Linked DNA regions of Homo sapiens: region 2 is linked to region 1. The links come from fine-mapping of genetic effects on gene expression. Tissue or cell type: whole blood. Region 1 holds a variant in brackets; the other region holds the start of a gene. All regions are shown on one strand. Distances are from middle to middle.

The links. PIP is the estimated chance that this variant, and not a neighbour inherited with it, causes the effect.
Region 2: it holds the start of SLC24A3, and the variant in region 1 is fine-mapped to the expression of SLC24A3 in whole blood (GTEx, PIP 0.99).

The regions. Positions count from the first base shown.
Region 1 is chr20:19,330,701-19,336,665 of GRCh38, reverse strand. All of the region lies in intron 2 of SLC24A3 (solute carrier family 24 member 3), which reads right to left. Among named protein-coding and RNA genes, the nearest start is that of SLC24A3-AS1, 49 kb to the right of the region's middle. The variant AT/T (reference allele first, on the strand shown) is at 2,284.
Region 2 is chr20:19,210,074-19,216,038 of GRCh38, reverse strand. SLC24A3 (solute carrier family 24 member 3) reads right to left here and starts at 3,397. Exons shown (of 17, transcript NM_020689.4): 1 at 3,055-3,397. The coding sequence starts at 3,196. LOC101929547 (a long non-coding RNA gene) reads left to right here and starts at 3,571. Exons shown (of 3, transcript XR_007067549.1): 1 at 3,571-4,410; 2 at 5,598-5,965. RefSeq lists a silencer at 2,997-3,046.

The DNA of each region.
Region 1 (5,965 bases):
CACGCCTCTAATCCCAGCACTTTGGGAAGCCAAGTGGGGGCAGATTGAGGCCAGGAGTTCAAGACCAGTCTGGCCAACATGGTGAAACCTGGTCTCTACTAAAAATACAAAAATTATCCAGGTGTGGTGGCAGGCGCCTGTAATTCCAGCTACTCAGGAAGCTGAGGGATGAGAATCGCTTGAACCCGGGAGGCGGAGGTTGCAGTGAGCCACGGCATGCCAGCCTGGGTGACAGAGTGAGACTCCGTCTCAAAAAAATAAATAAATAAATAAAAAATGCCCAGGGCAGGAGTCAGAAAACTTTTTCTATAAAGGGCAAGGTAGTAAATCTTTTAGGCTTGGCAGGTCAAACAGTCTTGAATGCACTGTTCTACCACAAAAGCAGCCACAGATAACACATAAACCAACAGGTGTGTCTATGGGCTATGTCCAGTAAACCTTTATTCACAAAAACGGGGGTAGTTTCCCGAGCCCTGGCCTAAAGGACAGAGAGAGAAGAGGGGAAATACACAGTAATGCTGGTGCCCTCACTCCCTGGAGTTAAGAAACAACAAGTAGTCTATTAAAGTCTTACTTCTAAGTGATATCTGAATCACCCATTGTTATGTTATGACAGAAATGACTAATTATTTCTTACTGAACATATTCATCTTGATGGACTTGCAATTATGTACCAGAGATGTTGTGTTAAGAAAGACCCAGGGGCTATATGGTGGGTCCACATGAAAGGGCACTGTGATTGATTAGCAATGTCTGTCTTGGGCAAAATAAGGGAGAAAGATGGCATGAAATGAGTCAAATATCCCACACACTGGTCATGTATGTTCTACATCATCATTACCCATTTTCAATACAAGTTAATTGATGCTAACTCAATTTAAAATGAATTGTTGATCATGCAGGATGCTTTTCAGAAACAGGTGTGAATAATCTTCTGAATACCCTTGACCCAGTGATCTGATTGCCAGCTTCAATTATTTCACCTTAAAAGTCAAGAGCTGGTCAATACACTGAATCTGGAAAGGACTAGGCAAAATTGCCTAACCATTACTATCTTCAAATATGGGCATTGAGCTGGAGGCATAATTCCAGTAACCCCCTTGCAACAATATTTACCTGAGCAGCCTTTATCTGGGCTAAGTCAAGCACTTGGGCAGTCCTACAGGAATGAATTCCTTATCACTGAAGGCTCCAGCAATTACTGTTCTCTGTGTGCAGAGCTAGGATGCAGGGCCACAGCAATTTCCTACAGTGGTCCTCGAAAAAACTGTTGAATTTCATTAATTAGCAATTATCTTCAGCTGAGCACACAAAGTCCTATCTGTGGGCTAAGAGAAGCTGGAAACCCATCCAGCTAAAGTAGAAAAGACAAGATTTAAGGGGCAGTGGATATATATCCGTGGACACCACTCATTTCATTCTAGCCCTCTTAATTCCTAACTTTGAGACTATGAGACTTTGAGGGATTCATTTTCTAATATTCTATTTAGACTTTCACTATCCATGATGGTAGCCAATAACCGTATGTAGCTATTTAAAATTAAACTAAAATTAAATAATATTAAAAATTTAGTTCTTCAGTCATATTCCAGTCCTATTTCAAGCTATATTACTGCACAGTGCAGAGGGAGAATATGTCCATCATCAAAGAAAGTTCTGATTCAGACTAAAGTACCAGGTGCTGCAGTGCTCTGTGCCTATCTCCTGCATATGGCACAGCAGAGGCTGTTCACCACTGACATGCTAACCCTGTGTCTGTATGCTTAGTTTCTGGCTGGGAGGGGACATTCAGCCCACATGCAGGATGGGTCAAGCCAGCAGTGCCAACAAACACCCCTAGAAGCAGGGCTCAGCGAATGGCAGGTGGGAATCAGCAGATGAGCCCCCCAGCGTCCATGTTTCCTGGCTTACAGAGCTCTGAGGCGTGTCCTACAGAGGCTCCCAGAGGTGCCAAATTGCAATGAGTCCCAGCTGCCCACAGCAATCACCTGCTTGCTGAAATTCCCTTAATTGGCTTGACTTGGGTTGCCTTCTTTAGGAACCCACCTAAGACAATGAACTTCACTGGTAGTTCACAAATTGTAAGACAGTCACATTGATGTTGGCACTGAATCTTGGTGTTTGAAAACTAGCCAACTTTACCAGTGAAAAAGATGATCACTTATGGAATCAATATATGAGAGCTCAGAAAAAAATTAAGTCTGTTGCCTTACATTACAGAATTCTTTTTTTTTACTGTGTTGATATACTTCATATACTTTTGTATGCTTCATAGCACTCTTT[AT/T]TTTTTTTACTGTGTTGATATTTCTCAGTTTGATCATTTTATTTAATTACCAAACCCACTTTTGAATTATTTTAGCTATCTCCAAAAATCAAGCCACTCTCCAAGGACAACATTTGACTGCACTGAGAATACTGAAGGGAATACATCCCAGGCTCTGAAAGCTATTCCCACAGTCTGGCTCTCAGGACCTTTGGCCAATAACAAGTCATTAGGATAAACGGACCATACTCACGGAGACAACGACCACCCATTTACATGTTTTGTTTCCTGTGTGACTTTTACAATTTGATTTCTTCATAGTCACACTTGTCTATTTCTCTTTGCTGTCTTTTTTTTTTTTTAACAGCTTTTCTTCTGATATAATGCACCTGTCATACATTTTAACCATTGAAAATGTACAATTCCACCCTTTTTTAGTATACTCACAGGATGCACAACCATGTCTTTTCTTGTCTTCTTTCACCATAAATGGAAACAGGCAGTTTGACCTCACACATTATTCCAGCTTAAGAACCTTATGGCTACATTCAAAAATCAAAGACCAAGTCATGTGTGGTGGAGGACAATTTACTGGCACTGAGGCTAGGCAACAGAATATGCAATCGTTATACTAATGTCGCTCCTTCCCCTCCATTTTTCAGAATTACCGTGTTCAGTCATCAACTCACCTAATCCCCAGGGCAGTAAAATAATCAGTTATACTGCACACACACACACACACTCTCACACACACACACACTCACACACACACACACACACTAGCAAGACTGGACTCACCAGTAACATATTGTTTGCTCAACGAAATACAAATTCCCACACAAAAATGTATTCTTTTAAAAAATTTCGTTTCTCCCTAGTTCTCTGATTATTACTGATACCACAAACCGCTTTGGTGAAACAATTCCCTTCTCTTCCCACACCGCTCTTTGCAACAGGCCAAATCTGTCACTTCCCCCTAAGACTCCTGCATCTGCTGGGGCCACTGAAGCTCCCACCAGAATCTGTTTCTCAGCCCCTAGTTTGAGCACCCTGGTTGTAATGAACAGATGCATTAGGGCAGATAAATATTAAGTCCAGGGGGGAAGATAAAAGGGTACCACTCTTCATAACCAACTGAATGTCTGACCACAACTACTGATGTCAGGGATAAATTTCTTTCCAGGGACACCCACTGTCCCACTACACATCCCCTCACTCCTCAGACAGATGACAGATAAACAGACAGACAGCCACATGGCTTGAAGTGTGAAGGGTTTACAACCACTGCCCCTCTTTAAAGAATCACTCACAGCTTTGAAGGACACTTCCCTGGCCCTCCCAGTTTCTGGCAGGATGATCCCACAACAAAACAGCCCTCTATTAGCCACAAGAACCCAGACACAGCCCCTTTAGCCTGCTAAAGAAAAACCTCAGTTCATCTGACCCTGGGAGGAGACAAAACCAGAAAGCTATTTAGAGCATCCTCCCTAAATTGTCCTGGCTCCCTAGACTTAAGAATTCCAAATTCTCAATGAGGGTGGCTGGTAGCACAGGATAGAGGCAGAGAAGAGAACCCACCAACAGGCAAGAAAAGCCACAGCCTCTGTGTCCTCAGAGTATCCCATGTAGTGCTGGAGTGTTCATGGGACCAAGGTCCTCTTGCCACCTCTCCTATTTTAGGGAGCGCTGGGAACCCCCAAATACCCTTCTGAAACCTCAAGGTGGTTTTCTCCCTGTGGAACTGGGTCTCCTCAGTCCCATTCTGGGTTTCTATTTATTCTTCCCCAGTGCTCAAGACTGAAGGCAGCTCAACAGCAGAAAGAAGTCAGTTGAAGAGAGATGCATTTTTGTCATTCTTGGCATGTGTCAAAGTAATGTTGGAAAAAGAAACCTGGTAAATTTTTAGAGTTGCTGAAAGGCATTGAGTGACTTCACTAAAGACATGTGTTGATATAAAAGAAATAAAAAAAGATGGTGTGCCGGAATCATGCTATACTCCTAAAGACATCAACCCCATGAGGGTGAGGGCTGGCGAGGGGAAACAAGGCAAGGGGGCTCAGGGAGCTGCCTTGCTCCCTGTTGAGGGGGTGGCTGTGTCCCCAGAGAGGCCACAGCGGTGGCCCACTGGCTTCTGTTCCTGCTCAGTGTCCCACTACAATTCAAGCTCCACACAATAATCAGAGTGATATATGGAGACATGAATTCATTAATGTCACTTCATTCTTCCAACCTTCCATGGACTCCCTCTGCTACTTAGAATAAAATCTAAACTCCTTACCATGGCAGACAAGACCTTAGATGGTCCAGCCCTGCAAGACGCTCCAATTCTTCTCCTTCTCTCCCTAATCCCCAGCTGCAATGTCCTTCTGTGTTCCTCAAGCACCTCCGTCTCCCTCCGGCTTGGGTGCCTTTGCAGCGGCTGGTCCCTCTGCCTGGAATGTTCTTCCTTGGCTGGTTATAGGAATGACTCCTTCCCTCAATCAAATTCCTTTTCCCATGGCTCCTGATCCAAAGGACGCCTCCCATCGACCCCCATCACGACCTATTCCTCATTCCCTTTTTCCGTAACACTGATCAAAATCAGATGCTTTCTAATTGTTCTTTGTTTATTCCTTAATTCTGACACCTCCCCCTAGAATGGAAGCTTCATGAGAATCAGGAGCTTGTCTGTGTGGCTCACAGCATGAAAGATGGGGCCTGAGATGGACCAATGCCCAATCAATCCTGAAAGAAGGCATCAATCAGTCAATAAAAAGGGGGCCTGATTTATTTATTCTATTTTTTGCAGGGAAGTAATTTCAAACTTGTAGAAAAATTACAACAATCGTACAAGGAACTCCCATAAACACTTTACCCTGATTCACCTATTGTCAATATTGTACTCATTTTTGTTAGCATTCTGTTTATCTATCTATATCATTTCTATCTCTATCTATTATCTCTCTCTATCATCTATCTATGCATTCATCCAACTATCCTATCTATCCATCTATCAATCATATCTACTCTATCTACCTACCTACCTACCTATCTGTCCACCACTCATCCATCCATCTATCTATACCATTTTTCCTGAACTGTTCTAGAGTAGGTAGCAAGCATCATTGCCCCTCACCCTTAAATACTTCAATGCTTATTTCCCAGGAATAAAGGAATTCCCTAACATGACCACAGCACACTCATCAATTCCAGTAAGTTTATCACTGATACAACTCTTTTATCTAAACTTCTGTCCATTTTCAAACTGTCAATTGACCCGATAATATGCACTAAAGCACTTCTCCCTCCAGTACAGGATCTGATTCAGGTGTGGTTAATTAGCTGTCCCACCTCCCTGGTCTCCTCTAATGTGGAGCTATTCCTCAGCCTTCCTGTCTTTCACAACTTCAGCATTTTGGAAGAACACAGTCCCTTGCTTCAATAGAATGTTCCTCATTGGGGGTTTTTCTGGTGCTTCCTCATAACTAGATTCAAGTCATGCCTTCCTTGCCAGAATACTGCAGAAAGGAAGGTGTATCACATGTGGAGGGCACCATGACCATCGGTCTCCTTGGTGATGTTAACTTTAACAAGGAAGTTTCAGTCAAGGTGCTGTCATATTTACCCACTGTACACTTATGAGAGGCATTTGAAGACCATGCAAATATCCTCATCAAAACTTTCCCATGGATTTTGCATCTACTGATGACTTTTATCAGACCA
Region 2 (5,965 bases), 120 kb after region 1:
CAATACCTATAAGGTGGGAATAGCGCATTGCCTGGCACATAAGAGCCCACCAAAATTCCAGTTATTATTATTGCTTTTGTTGTTAGAATTTCTTGATTCCAGCACTAATTCTTCCTGACCTAAATTAAGCAGACCTCATGTTACACCTCAGCAGAAAAGAATCAATGTAGATTCTTACTGCATATAACCAAATACTGAATATGTGGAAAATGTTTTCAGTATATAACCAAAACTTTTCAGTACATAGCCAAATCTGAGTTTCGTTAGATGTCTAGAAAGGGATCTTGGATTCCATATGATTAGAAATGTTATGAAACATCATATAATATAATTATCACACATCTCTATTTTGCTTTGGTAAAAGAACTGTCATTTTAAGAGGAAAGAAGAGAGAAAGGAAGGGAGCAGGAAGGAAGAAAGAATGAAGGAAGGAGAGAGGGAGGAAGGGCCAACAGAAGGAAGGAGGGAGGGAAAGGTCAATATGTGTTAGAAAACGAGCTTCTGAGAAGTTACATTTAACAATCACTGCATGGCTTTCAAGGTGACTAAATGAAAATATTACCTTTGATCATTATGAAGGTACCCCCTATGAGATTATATAAATATTACAAAGCTACACCCAAATGGTGGTTTGAATATGAGGACAGAGTAGGGAACAAAAAACCAGGTTACCTCAGGTTGGTTTTTTCCTCTACTCTTCGAATGCTGTGTGACTTTAAGCTAATCACTCAGCCTCTCTACACCACAAGGTCTTCGAAACAATGCTCCATTCCAAACTTCAGTATCTGTACCAAAGGACCACTAGGTAGTGTGTGCTCCAAGTTTCCAGGGTAAAAGTCACCATTCAAATGCTTACGTGTGCCAAACGACAATTCCCCTTGCAAAATTATCATTTGCAGATTCACACACATTAATTAATATGTTAAAAATTATCTAGAAAAACCTGTGTCTTGCTGCAAAATACTACTGTGCATCACATACCAAAATCATCAATACCTAACGGAAAAAAAAGTGATTGGAGACCATTTCAACTCATATGTCATTCGGGGGCAACACAGGGAGGCTGGCTGGCATCCTCCTTAACATTTGGCTTTTGCCTGTTAGATCTTCAGTTACTGGGGTGTGGAGGGGTCCTAAGACCAACAGAGATGAGAAGGGAGGAAGAGGAAGTGAGAGGAAAAAAGAATATGAAAGGTAGGAAGGAGAAAGGTAGGACAGAGGGAGGGATGCGGAAAAGGCCGTGCTATGGAACTAAATCTGAGTCAGTGGCACCTGAATAGAAATGTCACTACCAGGGAAACCATTCCAAAATGACATTCCAGTCCCCAGGTTTCAAGTTTGCAGAGTGTCTGGCCTCCTCTCCTCCCAAATCCCAGCTTTTCAGGGCCCAGGCAGCCCCCTGTCACTGATTGACTTAACTATATGAGTCACATCCTTCACCCAGAAAAAAATGTCTTTTATATTCTTGAAAGTGGTGGGAACTCTATGTCTCATAGAGCCCCAACATACCAGAAAAAAATGGCCAGCGTGTAATCCACTAGGAATAGCCCTTTCCAAAGGTGGCATGAACTATAAACTGGTTTTTCACTGGAGAAAAATAAAAAAGGAAAATAAAAATGGGATTCGGGAAAACCCCCTTAGTGAGACTGTCAGTAGACAGAAGTCTGGCAGATGTGAATCTGCCCTGGGAGAGATTCTGCTTCCCTCACACCGGCACGGCCCCCTTCCTGATGTCAGAACCCAAGGCTACGGGATCTGAGATCCAGGAGAGCAATGGAGAGAGCCGTGGAGTCTTGAACAGCTTCACTGAAGACCAAGACGGACTCTCTGCTATTACCATAAATGATGAAGTCTGTCAAGCGGTCTGCTAAGACTGAATGAAGACTGACGCCTGTTTCACTTCCCCACCAAGCAGGAGACCAGCCAAGCTGGGGGAGATCCCTTTTTAAATTCATGGCACCTTTGAAAATATTTTACGGTGACTATCAAAATGTCTTTATTCTGCACCTCATGACATCTTGCATTAGAGCTACGTCGACCTCAACACCACAGCACATACTTGTAACTGTTTTTTTGTTTGTTTGTTTTGTTTTGTTTTGTTTCTTTCTCACAACCCTTTACATGGCTGTTTTCCCACTAATCGTGCCACTTCCACGGCCGGGATATAAAACCATTTTACAACAGTTATTCTCCCATGTTTTTCCTTCATTTTATAGACAGCTGAATCCCAGGATCGAAGCTGTTTCAGCAGACAACTGTTGGGAGCACACAAGATCTATTTCAGCTCAAGAAAGGCCAAGGACAAAGACAAGACAAAAGTTGTGGGTTAAAGGGCAGACTTTGCGCAGAGCACCGGTAGAGGAGCGGACAGTGTGATGCGTGGTCCACTGCAAACCATTTCTTCCACAGCAGCAGCTCTGCAAAAGGGACCTCTGAGGAAGAATTCCCTGTCTTCCCAGTGAGTGGTCATTTTAGGAGAACAAGTCCCCTACTAGCCCATAGCTGGAGGGCCAACACTTTTTCTCTCCCTGAAGTTCCCGGCACCTGTTCTGAAAGGGGGTTGAAGAGCTCTCTACTCGGGCCATCCCGCCTGCTCTCTGGATGGAGAACATACGGACAACTGTGTGTTAAGCAGTCCCCTTGAATCCTTCAGCAAGCCAAGGAGTATACAGGTGGTCACCTGCACAGGTGCCGGGTCTACCACCACAACTTTATCCCTGGCCTTGGGGGCTGATGGAGAGTAAGACTCCCCACCACCGCCACCAGCAGTACCTCCAGCTCGCGAGTAAGCAGCGCACAGGCGGGCACAGGTAAATGTTCCCAGGGCGGCCAGACGCCTAAGCCTGCTGGCTGCTGGCGCTCAGGGTCCCCACCTCCATGCCTCTGCGTGGGGCAGGGGGAGTCCTCGTGCCTGGCATCCCACTCCCCCCGCCAACCCAGCCCGCTTATCCTGGGGCTCCGGCCGGGCCGCCCGAAGGAGCCCCGCGCCCAGCCCCGGGAGCCCCGAGCCGCCGGAGCCGCAGCGCCCACTCGGGGCAGGCAGCGTGCACTCACCCTTCTGCTCTCGCAGGCTCGACAGCGACCAGAGCAGCAGCGCCACCGAGGCCAGGAAGCAGAGCTGGCTCAGCAGAAGGTCCCTCCGGCGGCGGCGGCGGCGGCGGCGACGCGCGCGGTCCTCGTCGCCGGACGGCCGCATCCTCGGGCGGCCGGGCGGCGGCCTCGGCGGGCGGCGGCCGCTCCTGTCGCGGGCGGCCGCGGCGGGGACAGCGGCAGGAGGCAGCCCTGCGCGCAGCAGCCGCGCGTCCTCGCTGCGCTCCCACCCGGCCGCCGCCTCCGCCTCCTCTTCCTCCTCCTCGCCGCTGCCCGTCTCCTCGTCGTCGCCCTCCTCGTCGCTATCGCCCAGTCCCTCCTCCCCTCCCTCCTCCTCCTCCTCGCCGCTCGCCCGCGCCGCCGCCTCCCGGCGCTCGGGGTCCCGCTCCTCCTCGCGCGCCATGGCTCCCACGCTCCGCGCCCGCGCTCGGCCTGGGGCGGCGGCGCGGCGGGGGCGGCGGGGGCGGCCGGGAGGCGGGGGCGGAGGGGGCAGAGGAGGAGGAGCGGGGAAGGACCGACGGTAGGAGGGCCCGCCGCTGGCCAACTCCGCCGGTTGGCAAAGCCACCCCGGACTGGCTCTGGCCTCGCCGGCTGCAGGAGCGCCTCGCGGGGCCGCCCGCCTATTCCATGGTCGGCGCGATGGGGGCCGGGGCCGGGCCGGAGCGAACAGGGAGCACCGAGCGAGCTGGGAGCATGAGCTAGCGCAGCTCCCGGCAGCCTGCAGCGGCGAGGCTGGTCGGGCCAGGGTTGGCGGGGGGCAGTGCCTGGGACACAGCCCGGCGCTGGCCGGCATGGCGGGGAGGGGGCGCGCTGGGAGGAGACTGGGCTGGGGAGGGATCCCTGTGTGCAGTCCTTCAACCCTTCTGTGCCAGGGGAAGAGGGACGGCGCAGGGGGCCCCCTCTCGGGAAGCACACACGCTGCCTCCCAGAGGCCGATCTTCACCAAGAAGGATTCGCTGGAAACTTTCGGAAAACCGAGGGGCTCTTCAGCCTCCTCTCTACGTGCTACCTGGAGTCGGGGCGCCGCGAGTGCGCTTGGCTGCCCGCGCCCAGCCTCTGGCCTCGCCTCTTCTCGCGGGCCTCCCGGGTTTCCCTCTGCCCCCTTGCGGGGATCCCCCTGTGCGCCCGACTCGGGATCTGGAACAGGCCTCCCCAGAGGCTGTTAGTTCCATAAGGGTGTCCGGCTCCCCCCTCTGTCTTGGGCTCACACTTCGCTTTCTGTTCGTGCTGGACCAAGTCCAATACTGTGGCTGATCGAAGTGGGGACAGCTGGCACGGTCCCTGGAGAGGCGGCCTGAAGAGGCTTCTGGCCTTGTGCAGGTAACACCAGCCTGCCCTACCTCCAACGTTAGAATCTTAGTCCTCCCATTTCCCCCATTCTAGGTCTCCTGCCCCTCCTTGCTGAAGGTGTGGGCTGCCCTAGAGATGGCTGGACTCACGACCTGCCGCAGGTGCCCATTTGGAGGGGATCCCTGGCCATCCCAGACACAGCCCACTCTCCCTCATTGGGCTTCCCTGGACTCTTCCCAGATGCTAGCCTGGGGCTGCTGGCTGGGCTGAGGAGGAGATGCCATTGTTGGGGCGGAGGGTGGGGGGGCGCTGAAAACAAAAGACCTTGTCCAGAAAGGGATCACCTGAAACCAGGTGTCTGTCTAGGTGACTGTCTCCATGGAATCCATTCAGATCAGGGAATCTAGCTTCATACCCTAAGGAGGTGGGAAGGAAGCAGAGAACCTCTGTATAAGGCTCCCCTGTCTAGGTCTGTTCAAATGTGTCCCCACCTGTGACTGACCTACCCCCCCCGACCTCCTCCCAGACAATCCCTGACAGCGCCCGGGGACAGCAAGGTCACAGCAAAGGGCAAAGGAAGTGGTTATAGGTGGCCTCCTTTCCAGAGAAAGGCCATCTCACCCAGGGAGACCAGAGACTTTTCCTTTGTGGGTATATCATTTATGACTGCTGTTCTCAGCCTGGCATCTTCCAGACACTCAGAGTACCTCCCCCACAATGCCTGAGTGGTTTTCCCTTTGCTTTGGCTGCAGATACTAAGGAGGGTGTAAAAATACGAGTTCATCCGTGCTGGAGTGTGTGGGGAGAATTCTCTAGTTGTGTTATCTCCATCAAGCTTTTGCAGACACAGAAAAGAAAGTTTAGGAGCTGAGAAGAATTCAACTAACCAGGAAAGTCACTCAAATAGTGTTTTCTAGTGAAAACGAGGGAAAATAGAAGGTGAGAGAGGGAATCTGGAATTAATTGAGTTAGGAAATGAACACAAGCTCCAGGGGAAAATACCATAGGCTCAAGGAATTGTGTAATCTGGTGATGGAGGGGGAGTTAGGAAGGGAGCCAGGAGGAAGGAGAATAACCAGGAACTGGTAATTTCTTGGAAATTATCTCAGCACCAGGAGTGTATGTGTGTGTGTGTGGCGGGGTGGGGCGGGGGGGCCGGGGGAGAGCACTCCTGTGGCACACAGAAATGATTCTTGGGTTTCTATTCATTTTGACAGATTTTGGAGTGAAGGGCACTGTTAAAGTAAAGCACAGAGAGTGATTCCTTGGGCGGCCAGGCACCACCTAGGGAAGAAAGGTGGGGATCCTGGTCCCTAGGCTGACAGCAACTGAGACCTGATAGGTTCCTCAGCCCCCCAGGTGATGGCCAAGTGAGACAGGCCTCAGGAGCTCCTCTCCAAAGAAAACAGTCATTTTTTTTCCTACCTGTCCCTTTCAGTCTTTGGAAGCTCCCTCCAGAAACCGAACTGTGAAAGGAGCAAGAGTTGAAATGAAGAATGTGCTCTGATACTTCAGTCTGAGAGTATTTCTTTCCTGGAGAGAGAGGCATCACTCCTAGATGTGTGGGGGTCTTCACCCTTTCAGG